Homo sapiens: one gene and its partners. The protein of the gene in region 1 interacts with the protein of each later gene in a biochemical or structural test. Each region holds a gene or a part of one and is shown on either strand. Other genes may lie near its edges.

The links.
Region 2: the proteins of SUB1 (region 1) and CSTF2 form a complex in vitro, tested with the Homo sapiens proteins (one study listed by BioGRID).
Region 3: the proteins of SUB1 (region 1) and HNF4A form a complex in vitro, tested with the Homo sapiens proteins (one study listed by BioGRID).

The regions. Positions count from the first base shown.
Region 1 is NC_000005.10:32,581,587-32,588,570, forward strand, and holds the start of SUB1 (activated RNA polymerase II transcriptional coactivator p15), read left to right. Parts: upstream 1-3,970; 5' UTR 3,971-4,039; exon of another isoform or gene 4,040-4,385; intron 4,386-4,782; exon of another isoform or gene 4,783-4,915; intron 4,916-6,925; 5' UTR 6,926-6,926; coding exon 6,927-6,984.
Region 2 is NC_000023.11:100,816,504-100,823,410, forward strand, and holds the start of CSTF2 (cleavage stimulation factor subunit 2), read left to right. Parts: upstream 1-3,887; 5' UTR 3,888-3,913; coding exon 3,914-3,971; intron 3,972-5,023; coding exon 5,024-5,102; intron 5,103-5,747; coding exon 5,748-5,917; intron 5,918-6,116; exon of another isoform or gene 6,117-6,249; intron 6,250-6,788; coding exon 6,789-6,907. UniProt on the Homo sapiens protein: One of the multiple factors required for polyadenylation and 3'-end cleavage of mammalian pre-mRNAs. This subunit is directly involved in the binding to pre-mRNAs.
Region 3 is NC_000020.11:44,358,692-44,365,718, forward strand, and holds part of HNF4A (hepatocyte nuclear factor 4-alpha), read left to right. Parts: exon of another isoform or gene 1-2,230; intron 2,231-7,027. UniProt on the Homo sapiens protein: Transcriptional regulator which controls the expression of hepatic genes during the transition of endodermal cells to hepatic progenitor cells, facilitating the recruitment of RNA pol II to the promoters of target genes. Activates the transcription of CYP2C38.

The DNA of each region.
Region 1 (6,984 bases):
TCCTGACACACCACACAGATATCTCTACCCCAACTCTGTGGTGGAGGGAGGGGCGCTTGGGTTGCAGAGGAGCTCGGAGAGCTCGGCTGCCTGGAAAGCAAGGCACCAGTTTGCTTTGCTCTCTCAGATCCCTAAGCCCTCTGGGAATTTGATGCTTCCTTCCTTCCCCAGGGCTGGTGTGGGGACAGACAGCAGAACTACTTCTCTACTCCTTAGACACTGAAGAGGGGCCTCATCTCCTTTCTCTTCTGACTCCTCCCTTTCACAGTTGCAATAATCTCTACAGGCGAGTGGGGTGGGCTAAAAGGAACTATTTTTGTTTGTTTGTTTTTGAGACAGGGTCTCAAAAACACCCAGGCTGTCACCCAGGCTGGAATGAATGCAGTGGCGCACTCATGGCTCACTGCAGCCTCGACCTCTCAGGCTCAAGCAATCCTCCTGCCTCAGCCTCCTGAGTAGCTGAGACTACAGGAACTTACCACTACACCCAGCTGATTTTTTTCTTTTTCTTTTTCTTTTTCTTTTTTTTTTTTTGAGATGGAGTCTGTCTCTGTCACCAGGCTGGAGTGCGGTGGCATGATCTTGACTCACTGCAACCTCTGCCTCCTGGGTTCAAGCGATTCTCCTGCCTCAGCCTCCTGAGTAGCTGGGACTACAGGCACGCACCATCACGCCCAGCTAATTTTTGTATTTTTAGTAGAGACGGGGTTTCACCATGTTGGCCAGGATGGTCTCGATCTCCTGACCTCGTGATCCACCCACCTGGACCTCCCAAAGTGCTGGGATTACAGGCGTGAGCCGCTGTGCCTGGCCCATTTTTTTGTATTTTTTGTAGAGACAGGGTCTCACTATGTTGTCCAGGCTGGTCTGCAACTCCTGGGCTCCAGTGATCCACCCACCTCGGCCTCCCAAATTGCTGGGATTACAGGCAGGATCCACAGCACCCAGCCAGAAAAAAACTTTAATAGCACATTACCTTAAATCTGTAATTTATGCCTGGAATCCTAATAGTTTAAAAAAGTCAAAAGCCAAGAATCTGGTCTGTGTGTTCTGGTCTAACATCCTTCTTCTAGTCAAATGCTGTAGCTGAGAAAACGGGGGATGGGGAAAGAGTGAAGGTCAGAAAGCAGGAAGTGCTAGTAACAAAAGCCACATTGGGTAAGATTTCAAAATAATATCCTGATACTTGAATAAGCCTTTTTCGGAAGCTTTGAAAGAAGTGAGTAACGGAGGGTGTCGACAGCATAAGGCCTTGGAGGGAACCGCATTAACAGTCCCGTGCCATACTCCAGGCCTCCAGGAACTTCTTCCTGGCAGTCTCCTCCTCAAGCTCTGTCCCTTTCATAGTTTGTGAGCTATTTCCCTTCTCAGCCCTACTTCCCAGTCTACCTCCCTTTCTGGGACACCTACAGATTCTCCAAATTCAGCACATTCCTTTTTGTGCCACCCTCTTCTTCCAGACCAAGGCTTGGAGTGGAAAGTGGGAGTTCTTTCACTTTTAAAGATGCCCTCTAGGAATTTGCCTATAAAAGGAGCTATTCCCCACCCCACAATGTACAAATGCATGTGAATTACACCTCCTTCCCATTCTATTATTTGAAAGCAACTGCTGTCTTTTTTTTTTTTTTTTTGAGACGGAGTTTCGCTCTTGTTGCCTAGGCTGGAGTGCAATGGGTGTGATCTAGGCTCAGTGCAGCCTCAGCTCACTGCAACCTCTGCCTCCTGGGTTCAAGCGATTCTCCTTGCCTCAGTCTCCCGAGTAGCTGACATTACAGGTGCCCGCTACCACGCCCGGCTAATTTTTTGTATTTTTAGTAGAGACGGGGTTTCATCAGGTTTGCAGGCTGGTCTCAAACCCCTAACCTCAGGTGATCCACCCGCCTCAGCCTCCCAAAATGCTGGGATTACAGGCATAAGCCACCACGCCTGGCCCCTATTTTGTTTAAAATAAAAAAGTTTCCTTCCTCTTTCATCTATGTAAAAAATTATTTTTGTTTATTTTCTTGAGTTATGTTTACCTTTTAAAAATGGGCAACGCTTAGGATCAAGGATTTTCGATTAGTTTTACAAAGTACCACACCCAGGAAAATTGAGCCAACAAATTTGCATGCAAAGTTTCAGGTCTCCCTACTTCTAAAAATGCATACCTCCTTAACAGCTCTCCACCTCCGACGCTTAGAGAACCGAAACCCAAACCTACAGCAGGCACACTGCCCAGGTTCCCTCAGTGACACAGAAACTGAATGAAAACTTGTTAAAGCAGGAAGGGTTGCAGATGGAGGGGATACCATATTAGTTTAAGTGTACGTGGTTTACCTTGAATATTAAGCATTTCTTTAGCTAGGTGTGGAGCTGCGCAGTGTCCCATGACAATGCATAATGTCAGTGTTTCTTTTCTTTTTTTTTTTGAGACGGAGTTTCACTCTGTCATCCAGGCTGGAGTGCAGTAGTACAATTTCAGCTCACTGCAACCTCCACTTCCCAGGTTCATATGATTCTCCTGTCTTACCCTCCTGAGTAGCTGGGCACACGCCACCACGCCCGCCTAATTTTTGTGTTTTTAGTAGAGACGGGGTTTCACCATATTTGTCAGGCTGGTCTCGAACTCCTGACCTCAGGCGATCCACCCGCCTCGGCCTCCCAAAGTGCTCGGATTACAGGGGTGAGCCACCGCGCCTGATGTCAGTGTTTATTTTCATGGCTTCTTTTATTTCATTATGATGGAGAGTTTCACAACAAACTAAGGGATTAGTTTGTATTTTTGTCAGCATTTAATCCTTTAAAAGTCAGGTAATTCTAGAAAGGGACGTGTGGGGGATGCTTTCACGTTTAGTGTTCAGACTTTGATTCCATCCGCTGTGTTCTTTGCGTCTCAACCCCATTACACATTCCGCTCCCAGCTTTAATGTTTGCAGGGAATATATAACTCTCTTCTCCTATAAGGGTGGGATGGGTGGGAACCACAGGTCTAACTGCTCCATATGTAGATCCAAACACTCCTCCCTTTCTGCAACCCACTGCCCTTCCTTAGCCTCTGTGGCATCTCCGATGTGCAATTCTGAGCTTCGACAGGATTCCATCCTCTACTTTGTAAAATCCCATACCATTCCTCTACCTGAGGCAGGAAAATAGGGTCTGGAGGGAGAGAACATAAGGACAATTCACGCTTCAGCTGTAACAGGAAATATCCTCTCCATAGGGCGTTAACTTTGGTTTCCTCGTCTATAAAATGGAGAGAACAGTCATTTCTGCTTTGGAACATGCTTGTTAGGATGAGTAATGTAAATTGCCTCCTGCAGCGTCTGACACGTAGTGGGTGCTTGATAAATCTTTGTTAATAGATATGCCTTTATATTGATTCTTAGCTGTAGGAAGTATTCATTCAAATACATATTCAAATAATCTTTTAGCTATATTCCTGCTTGTATATGGATTCCTCTTGCCTTCTGTGAACTCCCTTACATCTCCAGGACTTCAATACAGGAATAAGGAGTACTCCAAAGATTTCTTGCACTTTCTGGAATTAAACGCTGTGACTTTAGCTTCCTTCCTTTGGATTTTAGGAGGCAGAGGCATGTATTGAGGTGGGTGAAGTGGGGTAGGAAGACCATTTCTGGGAAAATGGGCCAGAGTATTGATCTTTTTCATTATGACCCCTTCGCTTCATTAGAGTAAACATTTATTGAACAAACGCAAAGCTTGGCGCTTGTCACTCATGTTTTATTGGCGTTTTCCTTTTTTTTAATTTTTTTTTAAGCTATCTCCTACAGGAAGGATATTAGCTCTTTCATTCTCTCAAGGGTCAGATGTAATCTTCCAACATCTGACTTTCGCGTCACCCATTTAGGAAGAGACGCGGTCCCTTTAAGGCCCTGGAAAGGGTCTAAGTGTTGGTTTCTGTGGGGAGGCCACGCCCCATCACGTGACCGCAGCCCCAGCGCGGCGGGGCCGGCGTCTCCTGGCTGCCGTCACTTCCGGTTCTCTGTCAGTCGCGAGCGAACGACCAAGAGGGTGTTCGACTGCTAGAGCCGAGCGAAGCGTGAGTGCGCGGGACCCCCTACCCCTACTCCTCGGGGCCCCCACCCTCCCAGCCGGGCCGTGAGCTGCCTTCGGCCCTCCACTCCTCTCGCCGGCAATGGCCGCGGGAAATGGCGGCTCTGCCTTACCTCCCCCTTCCCCTCGGCGTCCCCGGCCCCCTTCTCCGTTTCTGACTCCACGCCTGACGCGCTGTGGGCCCTTCCGCGGTAGACTCCTGTCCCCGGGGAGCCGAGTCGAGGCGGCGGGCGCTGCGGCCCGGGGCGGTAGATTGAGGGCGGCCGGGGAGTGAGGAGTCGCGGGGAGAGAGTCGCGGCGTCCCCGGGACAATGCGGCGGCGGCCTGCCTAGGTGGGGCGCGTGCGGTTACCTACTCTTCCCCCGCCCCTCGCCCTGAGCGGGGCGCTCTGGAGACTGGGAGAGCGGATGCGGGCGGGAGGGGGCCGGGGGAAGAACGGCTGATGTGCAGGGGGAGGGAACGCTTCGAGAGAAGAAAATGGCGCTTGGTGCAAATCCCGCCCCTTCCCACGCCGTCTTCTCCGCACTTCGCCGCCTCCCACGCCCCCTCCGACCAACCTGTCTCCCCTCGCCCGAGCGGCTGCTAGCCACGGGGTTCTAGCGGCTTGCTGGGGCCGCGCGACCCCTTCCCTGGTCTTGTGCTTGTCACCTTCCTGTTATACCGAAGTCGTGTGCCCTTCAGTCCTGGTTCATTTTCACCTCGTTTTTTTCTGATCTTTCCCTCAATCAGCAAAGGCTGAAGATTTCGTTTCTCTTTTTAAAGTTGCGTTTTGTATAAATTCTACAATAGTGGTTTCAGTATCAGTTACTTGAATTACAAGCTGCTTCTCCCCCCACCCCCACATTGGAACAGGCTCATTAAGGTAAATATATATTTGTTAAAAGTTTAGAGGCTGGTTTTAGTTACCGTTACCTTTCTTCTCCAGTGGACTTCTTTGGGTTGAGTACCAGGTGGTTCTTTGAAAAATTCTTAGGCCCCCAGGCAGTTTTTGATAACAGACGGTAGTTATGATCGACAGTTTCAAAGTGAAAAATTATGTTCAATTTAATTACCTTTTTAAAAAATATCTTTTTGTCGTATTAATTAGCATAAAAAACTTAACTAAATTGATTTTAGAGATGAGGTTGCAAAATGGAGCAGAAACAGGAAAAACGGATAAAACGTGGTCATGAACATTGCTTTTCCCTTCTGAATTTACCCTTGAAGACATTACCAGTTAAAATCAGATTGAGCTTTTTGAATTTAATGGCTAGGATTGGGGTGGCCCACTTCTTTTTCCTTGACCTCCTATTTTGGAACATATGCAATGTCAGTGCTAATGCAAGTTTCATCTAGAGAGCTAGATTATTTATGATTTTTTTTTAAGGAGGAATTTTAAGTCTTTTTTTCTTGTATTAAACAAATACAGTGTGTGATGTGTTTATTAGGCCCTTTAACGCATACAGAAATTAGCTAATTTATGCCTAGTGTTCCATTATTGGAACGCTAAGCATGTGGGAGTTATTTATGTGCTACTGCTCAAGATCATCGCCAAGGTCTGCTTGCATAAATTCAAAAAATTGCAACCTCTGGCATAAATGGGTTAATAGGACCTAATCTCTTCTGAGATGGGGAGAGCAAAAGATATTTTGATAATCAGCGTTTTATGACCTGGTGTTATAAGTGCCTTGAATAGAGGTATCCACGTATCTTGGAATTCCTTGAAATTTGGGGCTTAGGCTTACTGATAGTTTGCTTTCTGCAAACTTGCACTCAGGCACTCAGTAAACACCCACTTGTAAGCAAGGCACTAAGTTATCTATGTCTCTGGGGGGACCTGGGAAGTTACCAGCATGGTAGGAATTTGCGGGAAGGTTTTGCACCTCCCATAAATAGGTTTTGCACCTCCCATAAATAGGTTCTTCAAATTTTAATTATGTTCCAGAGTAGAAAAATCTGTGTAAAATGTAATGAATTGCTGTGAATTGTGTAAGATTTTTTTTTTTTTTTGAGATGGAGTCTTGCTTTGTTGCCCAGGCCGGAGTGCAATGATGTGACCTTGTGTCACTGCAACCTCTGCCTCCGGTGTTGAAGCGATTCTCCTGCCTCAGTCTCCCGAATTGCTGGGACTACAGGTGTGCCACCGTGCCCTGTTAATTTTTGTATTTTTAGTGGAGATAGGGTTTCACCATGTTGGCCAGGCTGGTCTCGAACTCCTGACCTCAGGTGATCCGCCTGCTTTGGCCTCCTAAAGTTTTGGGATTACAGGCGTGAACCATCGTTCCCGGCCTGAATTGCGTATAATTTTGTGTACTCTTGAATTAGTACCTGTCGTTATTTTGGTGATACGGCCAAAAAGTCAAAATATGAATAAAATATTATGTAAAAATTAATTAGATGTCACATTTGCATAGTACAGCTAGTTCCCTGTTGTGTAAATGTTGGGGTCAGTTCCCCATAGTGAATAATTTTACGTTAGTTCCAATCTCGTTGATGAGAAGTCTAAAGCAGTAATAGTAGAATTACATTTCTTCTGGTTTTAATAGTAATTGTTGTCTGCTGCCTTCTTGCAGTTTACCCTACCCATAGTGTGTAATGCCATTAAAACGAAGTATAGAAAGATCCATTGGCCTGGAGAAAGGTTAGAGGTGTAGGAGTGTATGACATTTAGTTCATTGTTCTTACTGGGTTCAGCACATTGCACCCTGCGTGTTATTTGCAACTTAAAAGGGTATAGATTAAAACTTGTGCTCAGTGTAACAACTCAGTACCACAAAAATGGTAGAATGAACCGTGGAACTTGTCCTTGATTTTTTTCTTTGATTGGGGGAGAGCTAAGTTGAAAGTAGTAGAGTACCTTATTAATTATTTTTGTAATGTATTTTTCTTTCAGGATGCCTAAATCAAAGGAACTTGTTTCTTCAAGCTCTTCTGGCAGTGATTCTGACAGTG
Region 2 (6,907 bases), on another chromosome or scaffold:
TTGATCAGAATCCACGTCAGCATTCAGGTGCTCTCTGGCTACAAGTTTCCTTAGCTCTTGCAGGCGCTGCTCATTGAAGATTTCTCTTAACACAGGTAATGCTACCAGTCTCATCTGGCACCTTTTTCATGCAATGACAACTATCCAGGAGTTGCTGCCTTTCCAGATATCCCCTGCGAGACCAATGAGGGATTTTATTCCATGACTCTTTGAAGAGGTTCAAACATGGATCAAACATGAAGTAGTATGTACCCCAGCCTTAGAAATTTAATCTTTTATGACTGGGAGAAAGAACCCAAGTCTCTGTGCCTTCACAGTCTTGAATATCTCTGCTTGTTTCACTTACGTTTACCTCACTCAAGATTCTTAGTGTCATCGACATGACTGGTTAAGAACTCAGGACTTTTCAACAAAGTTTTCTGCCAGTGCCCCACAAATCATGACTGTGGTCTCCCAAATTCTTTGATTCTCCACTAGGTTCCCTTTCTCCTCCATTCAAAGCCCCAAATAACATTTACCCTATATATTTAGTCCCGTTTTTTGTAGAAATGCTTCTTTGCTTGTGTTCCCCCTACCTTTTCATATCATACCTACATCGTTAACTGAGGCTCAGTCATAACATCAACAACAGCATGAAACATCCCACCTTCTGTCTTCATTTTGCTATAAACTGGAGGCAAAGGAAATGCTGTCACTCAGGGAGTATATCAATGAAGGGAAAGACTCTCACAAGACAGGCACTGAGGCAGGAGTCACTAGCACACAGTGTATAAGTGAAATCTAAATATAAAAAAGCAAGCACTTGGGATACATCCCTTGCACACACCTCCTCTTTTATAACCAGTAGAGTGAAGTTGGTTGCTGAAGTCACAGAATCAATAGTCTATTTCCCACAGACGGCTGATGATAGCAGAACAAGCCCTGGCTAAGTCCCCCACCCTTTTCTTGAGTAGCTCATTGTTATGAGCCACGGACCCACCATCACCAGGTCACATGTTCTGTACTCTTTCCTAAAAACAGTGACAAAATATGCTGAGCCATCCATATTTCCTCAGTTACATTGAGAGGCAGGAGATATAACAATTAAGCAGTCTCTGGAGCCAGAGCAACCTGAGCTCAAACCATGCCTTAGCTTGCTTGTTGTGGGACCTAGGCAAAGTTACTGAAACTTCTTTAGACATGTTTATCAATAAAATGGGTACAGTTGACTGGCTCCAAGATTTCTTGACCTCTTGATGTATTTGCCCTGCATAATTCCTAAGACTGTGATTATAATGGATTTTACTCTTATGATTAGGTTTTCACATAGCACAGTTGACTTTAATACAGGGAGATTATCTGGGTAGGCCTTGCCTAAACACAAGAGCCATTTAAAAGCAGAGTTCTCCCCAGCTGGTCAAAAGAGAGAATCTCTGGTCAGAGATTCACAGCATAAGAAGGTTTCAATGTGCCATCACTGGCTCTGAGATGTAGAAACCCACATGTAAGGACCAAAAAGAAGCCCTTAGGAGCTAAGAGCTACAGCCCTCCAGCCAATAGCCAGCAAAGAAACAAGGACCTCGGTCCTACAACCACAGCCAACCAAATTCTGCCAACAAGAAAAATGAGCTTGGAAGCTGATTCTTCTCCCAAAGATTCCAGATAAGAGTACAACACCTTGATTTCAGCCTTGTGAGATCCTAAGCAAAGAACCCACTCATGTCCACCCAAACTTCTGACCTACAGAACTGTGAGCTAACAAATGAGTGTTGTAAGCCACTAAGTTTGTGGAAATTTGTTACACAGCAATAGAAAACTAATACAATGAGGACACAGCAAGTGCTTAATAAATGTTAGCTTTTATTATTACTAACTCATTGGGATCAGCTACACAGTTGTAAGAAGGCTAAAGTAAAAATTATTTATGCAAGGCTGGCAGTGCAACATAGCATTCAGATCCAGGGTCCATTTGGTCTAATATGGCTGATATTAAGTGTTTCTCAAGGGGAGAGACATTATTGGCATTCAGTGGGGGGAGGGGTTCATCCTGTAGAACTGCCTTGGACATGGCAGTCCATTTATCATCTCTGGCTTCTCTTCCCCTAGCAGTAGTCATTGCAACAACTGAAAATGCCACTGTACATTTCCAAAAATGCTCCTCCACAAGGGTTGAGAACTTTGAGAACTACTTTAAGGGAAATTTCATAAGAAAGCATGCGTGTCTTAAATGCTGCCATAAAGCTACCTCAATAACTACAATGCTACTCAAATTACCTGACCCTAAGAATCGCCAGTGGCACTTGTTTAAATATAACGATTCCCAAGTTCTTTCCCTGGAGTCCCATTCCATAGGGCTGGGGTGGAGCCCCAGGAATCTATACTCTTACTCAAAGACCCCAGGTTAATCTTTTGTTTATGTAAGTTTGCCAAACACTGAGTTAGAAATATACTCAGCCGTACATGCATTTAGCAAAAGTTCACCACAACGGAACAATGACACACCAAAACTCTTTGAAACTGTGCCTTCTACAGAGCTGTAAATCTCCTTTTGGACCATTCCATTACACAAGGTGTCCTCTTGGTCACACAGTGATTGCAAATGGGACTCTAGAGTCATGGAAATGGGTATACTCTTCTCAAACTTTCCATCTTTACCAGAATTACTTCTTAAAGTGATATGCTTCATGGTGTAAACTAGCACTTATTAATTTTTTCTAAATATTTATCATATTTCATATACTTTTATTTTGGAGATGGAGTTTCGCTCTTGTTGCCCAGGCTGGAGCGCAATGGCAGATCTCGGATCACCGCAACATCCATCTCCCGGGTTCAAGCGATTCTCTGGCCTCAGCCTCCTGAGCAGCTGGGATTACAGGCATGCGCCACCACGCCCGGCTAATTTTGTATTTTTAGTAGAAAAGGGGTTCTCCATGTTGGCCAGGCTGGTCTCCAACTCCCGACCTCAGGTGATGCGCCCGCCTCGGCCTCCCAAAGTGTTGGCATTACAGGCATGAGCCACCGCGCCCGGCCCATATACTTTTAATACATGTGGAATTAATAAAAACGTCCATGCCTCCAATTCCGTGGCTATTTTACCGTCTTCCTTTTTCGGACAAGTCCCTCAAAGGTAGCGCTCTTGGCTCCTTCCTTTGCTTATCCCCTAACCCTGTCCTCCTGAGGTGCCCCCTGGATTTCCTCCAACCCCGGCAGGGTCTGCCTTTCCGGGATGATACAACGACCTGCCCTGCATGCCATATCCCAGGCGCGTGGGCACCAAAGTGTGGAAAAACCGATGAATGACGTTTTCTGTTTCCGATACTCTGCCTGCCAGAATCCCCTGCCGCACCGCCCCACCACGAAGCACATGGAACCCACGGACTACACGAGGACAGAGGTCTGTTCTCCCTTTACCTCTCCCATTTCTTTAACTATGCTTCTCTCGGCTGGCATGCCCTTTCCTCATCTCACTCCACACACGAACAGGTTTAGCAAATAATATGCACGCTGCTGGGACGGGCCCAAGCATTTCCCTCCCTTGATAGGGCGGAACTAAAATGCAAGCCCCACAGTTGTCAGCAAAGGACTTCCCTGTTACCATGGTAAAGCCGCTGCGCCTTTATTGTGGTTGAGGAGTACTTGCATCAACCTAAGAGAAAATTAATAAGAAGGAAGTCTGCAGGCTGAAACCCTTCAAATTAGCCTGGACTCGCCTGCATCTGGCTCGGAACAGAGTTAATCTCAGGAGTGAGAATATAGCCCTCCGGTGGACGCAACTCGCGCCTGCGGCTAACAGAATGTCTCCAGGGGAGGGGCTCTGCGTCCGTTCCGCCCAGGCCCTTCCGGCTCACGCGCCGTACGGAAGCGTGCTCAGCGCTGGGCTTGTGCTCCGTACGGAAGTGTGCTTTGGCGCACCGGAAGCCGACTCAACAGAGCTATGGCGGGTTTGACTGTGAGAGACCCAGCGGTGGATCGTTCTCTACGTTCTGTGTTCGGTGAGAGGAATTCGTTGTAGTCAAGCTTCGGGGAGGGACTCCCCTCTGCACCTTCTATCTCATGAATCGCTACCGGAGCCGCTGACGGTTCGGACGTGCAGTTCTCCCTGCTTATCCTGTAGGGCGTCCAACCTGGTGGACTCATGAGCAAAGAGATATTCCCATTCTGCCGAGGTCTCGTAGGCTTTCCGCAATATCAGTGGGGAAGTTAGACTAGCGTTCAGCTTCTGTGCGTTTCTCCTTTCATGAGCTTCAATTATTCTCTAGAGGAGAAGGCTCACGGTAACAGCTCCTCACTGTCCCGTACTACTTCTCATCCTCTGCCCCAGAATACAGACTATATGCTGAGGGTATAGATCCTAGTGTCCACTTACTGTCCTCTCCTAAGGACTTTCATCCTTTGCTTTTTATCTGTAACATTTTAGTGCATCAATAGTGGTAGCGGCCACCTGGTGTCCTGAGATGGCTTGTAAGTGAATGAATGAATGAACTATTAAGATCTCCTCAGAGGAATTTTAAAAAGGATCGAAACGATTCTGAATTATCTTTTTGGCTGAAATAAGTTGTTTTTAAAAATACGTGTGATTATTTTAGAGTACCATTTGAAAGGGACATGACAAAGTAGTTCAGAATACTTTTTAAACATCTTTCACTACATTCATCGTCATTCTCCCTTAAATGTTGTATGTGTGGAAATACATAGGAACCTGTTTTAAAAATTATATTAAATAACATTGATATTTTTTGTAGTCACTGATGAGACTTGCAGATCTTTAGGTAAATACCAGTGCCAAAGTATTTATTTGCACCAAAGTTAAGGAAAATCTAACACGTGTCAGATCAGTCTGAGAACTAACATTTGAGAGTACCTACACATTTTGTATTTAGTTTCAGTGGTATATTTCCTTTGTTAAGAGGTCTGAAGAAATACAATGGAATTGGGATTGGAGAACACTATTTTGAGTCTTATATTTGATGATATAAGTTTACTTTCTCACTAAAGATCTATGTTATAAACTCAGAATTTTAATGTTACCTATTTTCTTCCTTAGTGGGGAACATTCCTTATGAAGCTACTGAAGAGCAGTTGAAGGACATCTTTTCTGAGGTTGGACCTGTTGTTAGTTTCAGGTGAGATCCCCTTTTCCTTCATGGTGGGAGCTTCTTAAAAATCACCACAGATTTGGCTCTTAGTAATAATGGCAGGTTTTCTTTACTGGTGACTTTTCACATACATTTTGTTCTTGTAACAGCTTTATTGAGATATAATTGATACACTATACAATTGACATTTATTCTTACCTAAAATATGTTTTTTTCGTTAAAAATGTTTTTTAGGCAGGGCATAGTGACTCAAGCCTGTAATCCCAGCACTTTGGGAGGCCGAGGCAGGCGGATCACCTGGGGTCAGGAGTTCGAGACCAGCCTGACCAATGTGGTGAAACCTTGTCTCTACTAAAAATACAAAAATTAGCCGCCGTGGTGGCCCATGCCTGTAGTCCCAGCTACTCAGGAGGCTGAGACAGGAGAATTGCTTGAACCCGGGAGGCAGAGATAGCAGTGAGCCAAGATCATGCCACTGCACTCCAGCCTGGGCAACAGAGCAAGACTCCATCTCAGGAAAAAAAAAAAAAAAGTTTTAAAAAATATTTCTGTGAGGCTGTCAGAGATATAAGGTTATTTATGTTACAGTGGGCCCAATTAAAGCATGGCAATGTTAGCAGGAACCCTGTATGTGTGTAACATTTGTTCCTGACACTTGGTTCTGCTCTCCAGATTGGTATACGATAGAGAGACAGGAAAGCCAAAGGGTTATGGCTTCTGTGAATACCAAGACCAAGAGACAGCACTTAGTGCCATGCGGAACCTGAATGGGCGCGAATTCAGTGGGAGAGCACTTCGAGTGGACAATGCTGCCAGTGAAAAGAACAAAGAAGAGCTGAAGAGTGAGTACAAATCCAACTTGGATGCAGTATGAGTTAGTAAAGATGTAACAATGAAGATTTTCCATTTCTGATATGTTTTAGAATATGCTGAAATGGTTAGCCACGCAGCTTGTTTATTACTTGACTGACCTGATGTGCCTGAGTTAGGCAAGTATTATATATATCTTTTTAAAAACTTTTTATAAATTTTTTTTCAAGTAATTGTCTGAAATTTCTATACCCTTGCTCTGGATGGAGCAGGGCAAGGCCTCAAACCGTTTCAAAACTGTTCTGGCAAGCACTGTAGGGATGCATAGGGTCACTGCAGACCTAAGCATGCTGGAGGCTTGCTAGTAAGTGTATATCTTTAAGAAACAGATAAAGTTGACATTAGAAATTCTTCAGTTGCTCCAGCCTGGGCGACAGAGTGAGACTCTGTCTCAAAAAAAAAAAAAAAAAAAAGAATTTCCATTGCTAAGGAGTTATTTCCAGTTAAAGATGAATTCAAATTCATCAAGCCATTAGTAGTACTAACTGTGGCATTAGTCATTCCTGTCACTCTTTTCAGGAATTTTTGAAGTTAGCGTATTTTTCTCTTTTAACCTTTTGTTTCTGAAATGACTTGTTAAAAGAAGTCAATGTGCCTAGTTCTCTAACTTAGGTTAACATTGTCCTTCCATGTGATCATGATCCCCAGCTTTCCTCTGAGAACAGAAAATACACTCTCACTTTCCTCCACAGAAACAAGAGGCTTTCACATCATTTATTTCTCAGCTCTGGAGAATCTAAAATTATCAGCTGGTTCTTACAGCAGCCCTGAAAAGTAGATATTTGAAATGATTTAGCTTTTTGTTTTGCCTCCCTAACTTTCTTGTACTTTCTTCTTGATTAGGCCTTGGCACTGGTGCCCCTGTCATTGAGTCACCTTATGGAGAGACCATCAGTCCTGAGGATGCCCCTGAGTCCATTAGCAAAGCAGTTGCCAGCCTTCCACCAGAGCAGATGTTTGAG
Region 3 (7,027 bases), on another chromosome or scaffold:
CATCTCCTAAGATGACTATAGTAGAGGTGCATTGGTGGGTCAGGGACATGGCACATAGCAGAGCCTCAGTTAGAGGCAGAGGAAGACATGGCTGTTGTGAGGATCAAATGGAAGGATCCATGAGTGCTTAGAACAGTCCTGGGTCCAGAGCAAGCACGCAAGAAATCCTCGTTGTGGTTTCATGTTTTTGAGCTTTAGCAGGATTCTAAAGAGCTGCTCTTTGGTGTGGTGATGCTGGGTGGACTTGGCCCTCCCTGGACTTCCGGTGCTTCCACGGCACACTGGTTTTGGCTTTGCGGTTCTCGTCATCGCTCTGATCAGATAGTTGCTGGTGTGAATTGTGGTGTCTGGCTGCCCCACCAGACTATAAACTCCGTGAGTTCTGGGACCTGGGTAGTTTGTTCAGCCTTGTTTGTCTCACTATGTCTCACATGGTGACTGGCACAGAAGAAATGCTCAATAAGCATTTGTTGGATGAGTGAAATGATGGGCTTAAAACAGCGCTACAATGATGATCATCAATGTCAGCCAGATCCCACTCTCTTGCCTTCCTTCCTCTCTGCCCTCCTCACTGCGTTGTCTTTGGTCCTTGTATTTGCCCCATTATAACCCAAACTGGCTGTCCCAGCTTCAGCTGTCATGTCTGCACTTACGTGTCTGAAGCTGGAGGCAGGAGGAGAAGAGGTTTTCCTCAGTGCCCTTGTTTCTTTTATCCAAAAGCAAAACTTCCCCAGAAACCTCCTGGCAGACTCCCCTAGTTCAAGGAAAGCTGGGAAGACAAGTATGTAGTGGAAAGAGATGGGAAAGCCAAGATGGACCTAGACCAGTGATTTTTCTCTTGGGGTGTGGCACACTCCTGCTCCAAACAGAACTGAGGCTCTGGTATAAATGAGTTTCTCAGCCTCAGCACTGTTAACTTTCTGGCCTGGAAGATTCTCTGTGGTGAGGGGCTGTCCTGTGCACTGTAGGATGTTAAGCAGCATCCCTGGCCTTTACTCCCCAGATGCCAGTAACATCTCTTCCCATCAGTTTTGCCAAAGAAAAAATGTCTCCAGAAAGCCAAATGTACCCTGGGGCACATATAACCCCACTGTGTTATAGGAGAACAAGGTAGTTCTGGGGAGTGTCTACCACAATGGAGTAGAGTAGACTGTGACTCTTGTGTTGTTCTGCTTTGAGTGCCAGGATCTTGCTCAGTGCCAATCTGGTACTACCCTGAGTAACTCTGAGGATGAGATGCTAAACATGCATATCTGTGTGCTAACCTGACTCCTGGCCTTATTACTTTTCTACCCTTATTTTCCCTTTAACAAGTTTCCCTTGGTTATTTATTTTGCTTCTTTGGTAGTTGCTCATTTCCGTAAGTACCTCGAATCTCCTTAAAGGAAAGGTCTGTATCTATCTCATTCTTTTTGTTATAGTCCAGCCTTCCACAGGGCCTGATCCCATGTAGACCTTGATTGAAGATTAATTAAGTGGATGAATGAATGGGAAGATGGATGGATGAATAAATGTATGTTTAGGTGGGTGGATAGGTGAATGGACTGATGAATGAATGTGATGTGATGAATGGATGTGATAGATGGGTGGAGGGATGCATGAATGGAATAGAGGGAGAAATAGCTGGATGGATGAGACAAATGAATGAGTAACTGGGGAGATGGCTGGGTGGATAGATGGGTGGATGGATTAATAAAAAGATGTTATGGGTGGATGGTTGGGTGTGGAGGATGATGCATGGATGGGTAAGTAGATGGATGGAAAGATATGTAGGTGCATGTGATAAATGGATGAATAAGTAGCTGGATAGATGGGTAGGTGGTTAGGGGAAGGATGGATGGACAAATGATGTGATGAGTGGGTTGATGAAAAGATGGATGAATGGATGGATAAGAAGGGGTGGGCTGAGGTAGCCTGGAATAGCAGCATCTTCAAGTGCTCTAAACAGGACAAGTGAAGAGATAGGGGATGTCAACAATCTTCCATCAGGGCAATACTGTATATCTGTTTTTAAGTGCCAGGTGAGCCTAATTTTTCCTAGCTATGTAGGCCTAGTCCCTTTGACCAATAGCATCAGCTTGAGGACAGATCAGAGGCCATTGTCGGAGACAGTTTGGTGATGTGGCTCTGCCCCTTGAAGCTCTATGATGATGGTGCTTTGCTTCACTTCTCTGGTCCTCAGTTTCTTCACCCATCAAATGAGCCTTGGTTGTTGTGAAGATTCCATGAGCTAATGAAAGAGAAAAGGTAATAGAAGCTATAACAAACATGCCGTGTCCTTGTGAAGGGTGGATAGGCCCAAAATCGAGTAGGACCCCAGATGCTGGCTGGCTATGGGACCGTGTCCAATATCAGGCTATGGCTGTTCCCACCCTTCATTCTTAAAATATGGCCCCTCTCCAGCCCTTCCCCTATCTCCCCTCCCACATCACCTTCCCATCCTACGTCAATTCAGTCTTCAGCCCCTATGATTCACAAACCTGGTTGCACATAGGAAACTTTTTAAAACAATTTTGGGGCTCCACTCCAGACCCAGTGAATCAGTCTCCTGGGGTGAGTTCCAAGAGTCTGTAATTTTTTGAGCTCCTTGTGTGACTTAGGGTATGCAGTTCAGTTGAGGTATGGAAACCATTGCCTTACTTTCTCCCATTTAGTAAACAGAGGAACTAAATATCCAGAGTGCATCTTGCCTCAACCCAGAAGCCTCCCGTATTCATTAATTCATTGTTCATTTGTTCATTTCTTCAACAATCTTCCACTGGAGGCTTATGGTATTTAAGACATTTTGTAAGGCACTGGGGAAACACAGGAGGATAAAACTTTGCTTCACGTGGTGGCTCATGCCTGTAATCCCAGCACTTTGGGAGGCCAAGGTGGGTGGATCACCTGAGGTCAGGAGTTAGAGACCAGGTAGAGGCAGAGGTTGCAGTGAGCCAAGATCACGCCACTGCACTCTAGCCTGGCGACAGGAGTCAGACTATGTCTCAAAACCAAACCAAAACAAAACAAAACCAAAAAAAAACAACAAAAAAAACAACTTTGCTTCAGATCTTAAACTGTGCTCAGTTTGGCAGGAGGACAGACAAGCCAGCAGCAACCAAAGACAGAGTGCCATGATAAGGACAGCAAAGGCACTGTGGGATACAGAGGGACTTAGGAGAAGGGGAAGGGGTCACAGACTTCTTGACCTTGGAGGAGTAGACTGATATCTAAGCTGGAACCTCGGTTTAGCAGGAGTCAGCCGGGAGAAGAGACGGTGGGGAAGAGTGTTCCCAGCTGAGGGAACAGCATATGAAAAGGCCTGGAGCCTGGCCACACACTGCTCTGATTTTACTTATATTTGACTGCAATTAATTCCATCCTTTACTGAAAGTATCTTGAGACTTGTCTGGTTGTTTCATGATTGATTAATCTTATTCCTAAAAGCATGCTGAGGCTGGGCATGGTGGCTTATTGTGGATTACACGCCTGTAATCCCAGCACTTTGGGAGGCTAAGGCGGGTGGATCACTTGAGGTCAGGAGTTCCAGACCAGCCTAGTCAACATGGTGAAACCCTGTCTCTACTAAGCATACAAAAATTAGCTGGACGTGGTGCCAGGCGCCTGTAATCCCAGCTACTCGGGAGGCTGAGGCAGGAGAATCACTTGAACGCAGGTGGTGGAGGTTGCAGTGAGCCGAGGTTGTACCACTGCACTCCAACCTGGGCAACAGAGGGAAACTTGTCTTAAAAAAAAAAAAAAAAAAAAAAAGCATGCTGAGATGCTTAAGTGAAGGAATTGTGCCTTCCATTTTTCCTGACTCATATGCCTGTAGCATAAGGATGGGTCAATGATAACGAAAGGAATTTGTTTTCATTTAAGCCCCTTTTATGTAATGGGCAAGATGTTGGCTATTTGATATGTTTTCTCCCTTTTAAGCCTTGCAATAACCCATCCAAGTAGGAAATATTATCTCCATTTTATAAACAAAGAAATTGAGATTCAGAGTTGTTAAGTCACGTTTCCCTGCATCGCCTTGCAAATAGGTGATTAAAATCTAGTCTGACACCAAATCTTCATTCTTTCAGCTATTATGTCATAATAGCATCCAAGGAGTTTACCACCTTCTACCACCTACTAGCTGTGTGACCTTGAGTGAATGACTCAATTCTCTTTTTTTTTTTTTTTTGAGACGGAGTCTTGCTCTGCTGCCCAGGCTGGAGTGCAATGGTATGATCCTGGCTCACTGCAACCTCTGCCTCCTGGGTTCAAACAATTCTCCTGCCTCAGCCTCCTGAGTAGCTGGGATTGTAGCTGGGGTTACAAGCGCCTGCCACCATGCCTGGCTAATTTTTTTTTATTTTTAGTAGAGATGGGGTTTCACCATGTTCGCCAGGCTAGTTTTGAACTCCTGACCTCAAGTGATCTGCCCGCCTCGGCCTCCCAAAGTGCTGGGATTACAGGCCTGAGCCACTGCGCCCGGCCGACCCAATCTTTTTTGCCTCAGTTTCCTCATCTGTCAAATGGGGTTGATGATAATACCATTTACTTCACAGGGTTGTTGTGAGACATAAAGTCAATATTTGTAAAGTGCTGAGTGTCTAGCACATAGAAAGTGCTATGTGAATTTGAACGATTATTATTATTATACCTATAGTGTGTGCATCTACTATATGCAAAGGACTGGATGCTTACTAGGTGTTAGCATCATTTTGGCTGTTGTAGAAACAACAGAGATGAGTAAGGAATAGATAACTGGTCCCAGGATGCAACTGTCTCTGGCTGGAGACTAAGGACAAGGCTTTGTTGCAAGCCTTCTGGGGCCCTGGGATGCCCAGGGTCTCCTCTTGGGGGTGCTGGTTCATAGATGGGGGCCTGTGTGGCTCCTTCACAGAGGAGGAGGCAGATGAGAGGCATAGAAAGGGAGGGGACAGACCTATCCTCATCAGAGACCTGGGAGATGGCTCTGGCCCTGGCCCTGGGTAGCTGTTTGTGACCTCACTCAAGTCCTTCTCCTGCTGTTTCTCCATCTACTCTTTTTTTTTTTTTTTTTTTTTTGAGACAGAGTCTCAATGTCACCCAGTGGCTCTATCTCTGCTCACTGTAACCTCCACCTCCTGGGTTCAAGCAATTCTCATGCCTCAGCCTCCCAAGTAGCTGGGATTGCACGTGTGTGCCACCACACCTGACAAATTTTTGTAGTCTTGGTAGAGATGGGTTTCACCATGTTGGCTAGGCTGGACTCCTGGCCTCTTGTGATCCTCCCACCTCGGCCTCCCAAAGTGCTGGGATTACAGGTGTAAGCCACAGCACCCAGCCTCCATTTCCTCTTTTGAGAAATGGAGGTATGACAACCATCTGGCTCAGCCATTGTCACACAGTATTCCCTGGGTCCTAAGAGTCAGGAAAGATGCTGCAGGGTTCCCTTTGAGGGTAATGTGGGTAGGGACGTGTTCAAATGGACTAGGGCTTAGCCTCTCCCCACCCTTCAACCTCTGGCTCCATCAGAGACACTTCTTTTTGACTTTTGTATATTTCTTTTTATTTTATTTTAGAGACAGGGGTCTCGCTATGTTGCCCAGGCTAGCCTCAAACTCCTGGGCTCAAGCAATCCTCCCGCCTCAGCCTCCCAGCCCCTGGGATTACCTGCTCATGCCACTGCACCCGGCACTCTGTTTTGACTTTTAAATGAAATATTTAATGGAGGGTCTCCACAGTTCAAAAATATTTGGAAAATCAGAAGACCACACCAGTGTGTTTCAAACTGCAATCTTAACCCAGGAATAGGTCATGCAATTTTTTTTTTATTTTTTTTTTCTAGATGGAGTCTTGCTCTGTCACCCAGGCTGGAGTGCAGCGGCACGATCTTGGCTCACTGCAACCTCCGCCTCCTGGGTTCAAGCAATTCTCTGCCTCAGCTTCCTGAGTAGCTGGGATTACAGGTGCCCACCACCGCGGCCAGCTACTTTTTGTATTTTTACTAGAGACGGACTTTCACCATCTTGGCCAGGCTGGTCTTGAACTCCTGACCTCGTGATCCACCTGCCCCGACCTCCCAAAGTGCTGGGGTTACAGGTGTGAGCCACCGTGCCCAGCCGGTCCTTCAATTTATTGGGATTATATTAGTTCAGACAATATAGCTTATGTAACAAGCAAATGCAGACTTTAAGTTAGAAGTTTATTGACCTCTGTGGCATAGTCATCCAGGGACCCCTAAGGTCACCCTAGCCCAGAAAGACACTTTCACTTCTACTCACATTCCATTGGTGAGAACTAGTCACATGGCCCTTGCCAAATGCAAGGGGGTCTGGAAGATGTGGTCCCTAGCGGGGCGGGACTAGCTGTAAAGTTTGTAAAGGGGAGCGTGAATTAGTTGGTACACAGTTGATCGTCTGTGCAGTAGGGTCATGCTCACACGTCCCTCCACACACACACGTTAAATATGTATAACAAGTGTAAATATACAATTTAAAAAAGTATCTTTTTTTTTTGGTTTGTTTTTGTTTTGTTGTTGTTTTTGAAACAGGGTCTTGCTCTGTCATGTGGGCTACAGTGAGCCACAATCATGGTTCACTGCAGCCTCAACCTCCCAAGCTCAAGCAATCCTTCCATCTAAGCCTCCCAAGTAGCTGGGACCACAGGTGCATGCCACCATGCCCAGCTAATTTTTTATTTTTATTTTTTTGTAGTGACAGGTCTTGCTGTGTTGCACAGGCTGGTTTCCTACTCCTGTCCTCAATCTTCCTGCATCAGCCTCCCAAAATGCCGGGATTACAGGTGTGAGCTACTGCACCTGGCCTTTACAATTTTTTACATAAAATGTTTCAATAAAAAAGTGCATAGATAGATACAGAGATAGCAATAAAGCAAATGTGACAGAATGCAACCAGTTGGTGAATTTAGGCGAAGGGATACATCAGTGCTCACTATACTAGTCTTTCAAACTTTAAAGTTTGAAATTTTTCAAAGTAAAATATTGGAGAAAATGAAATTCTTAAAATTTACTAGACCTATAAGTAGACTAAAACAATAAGTTATAACTAAAGTA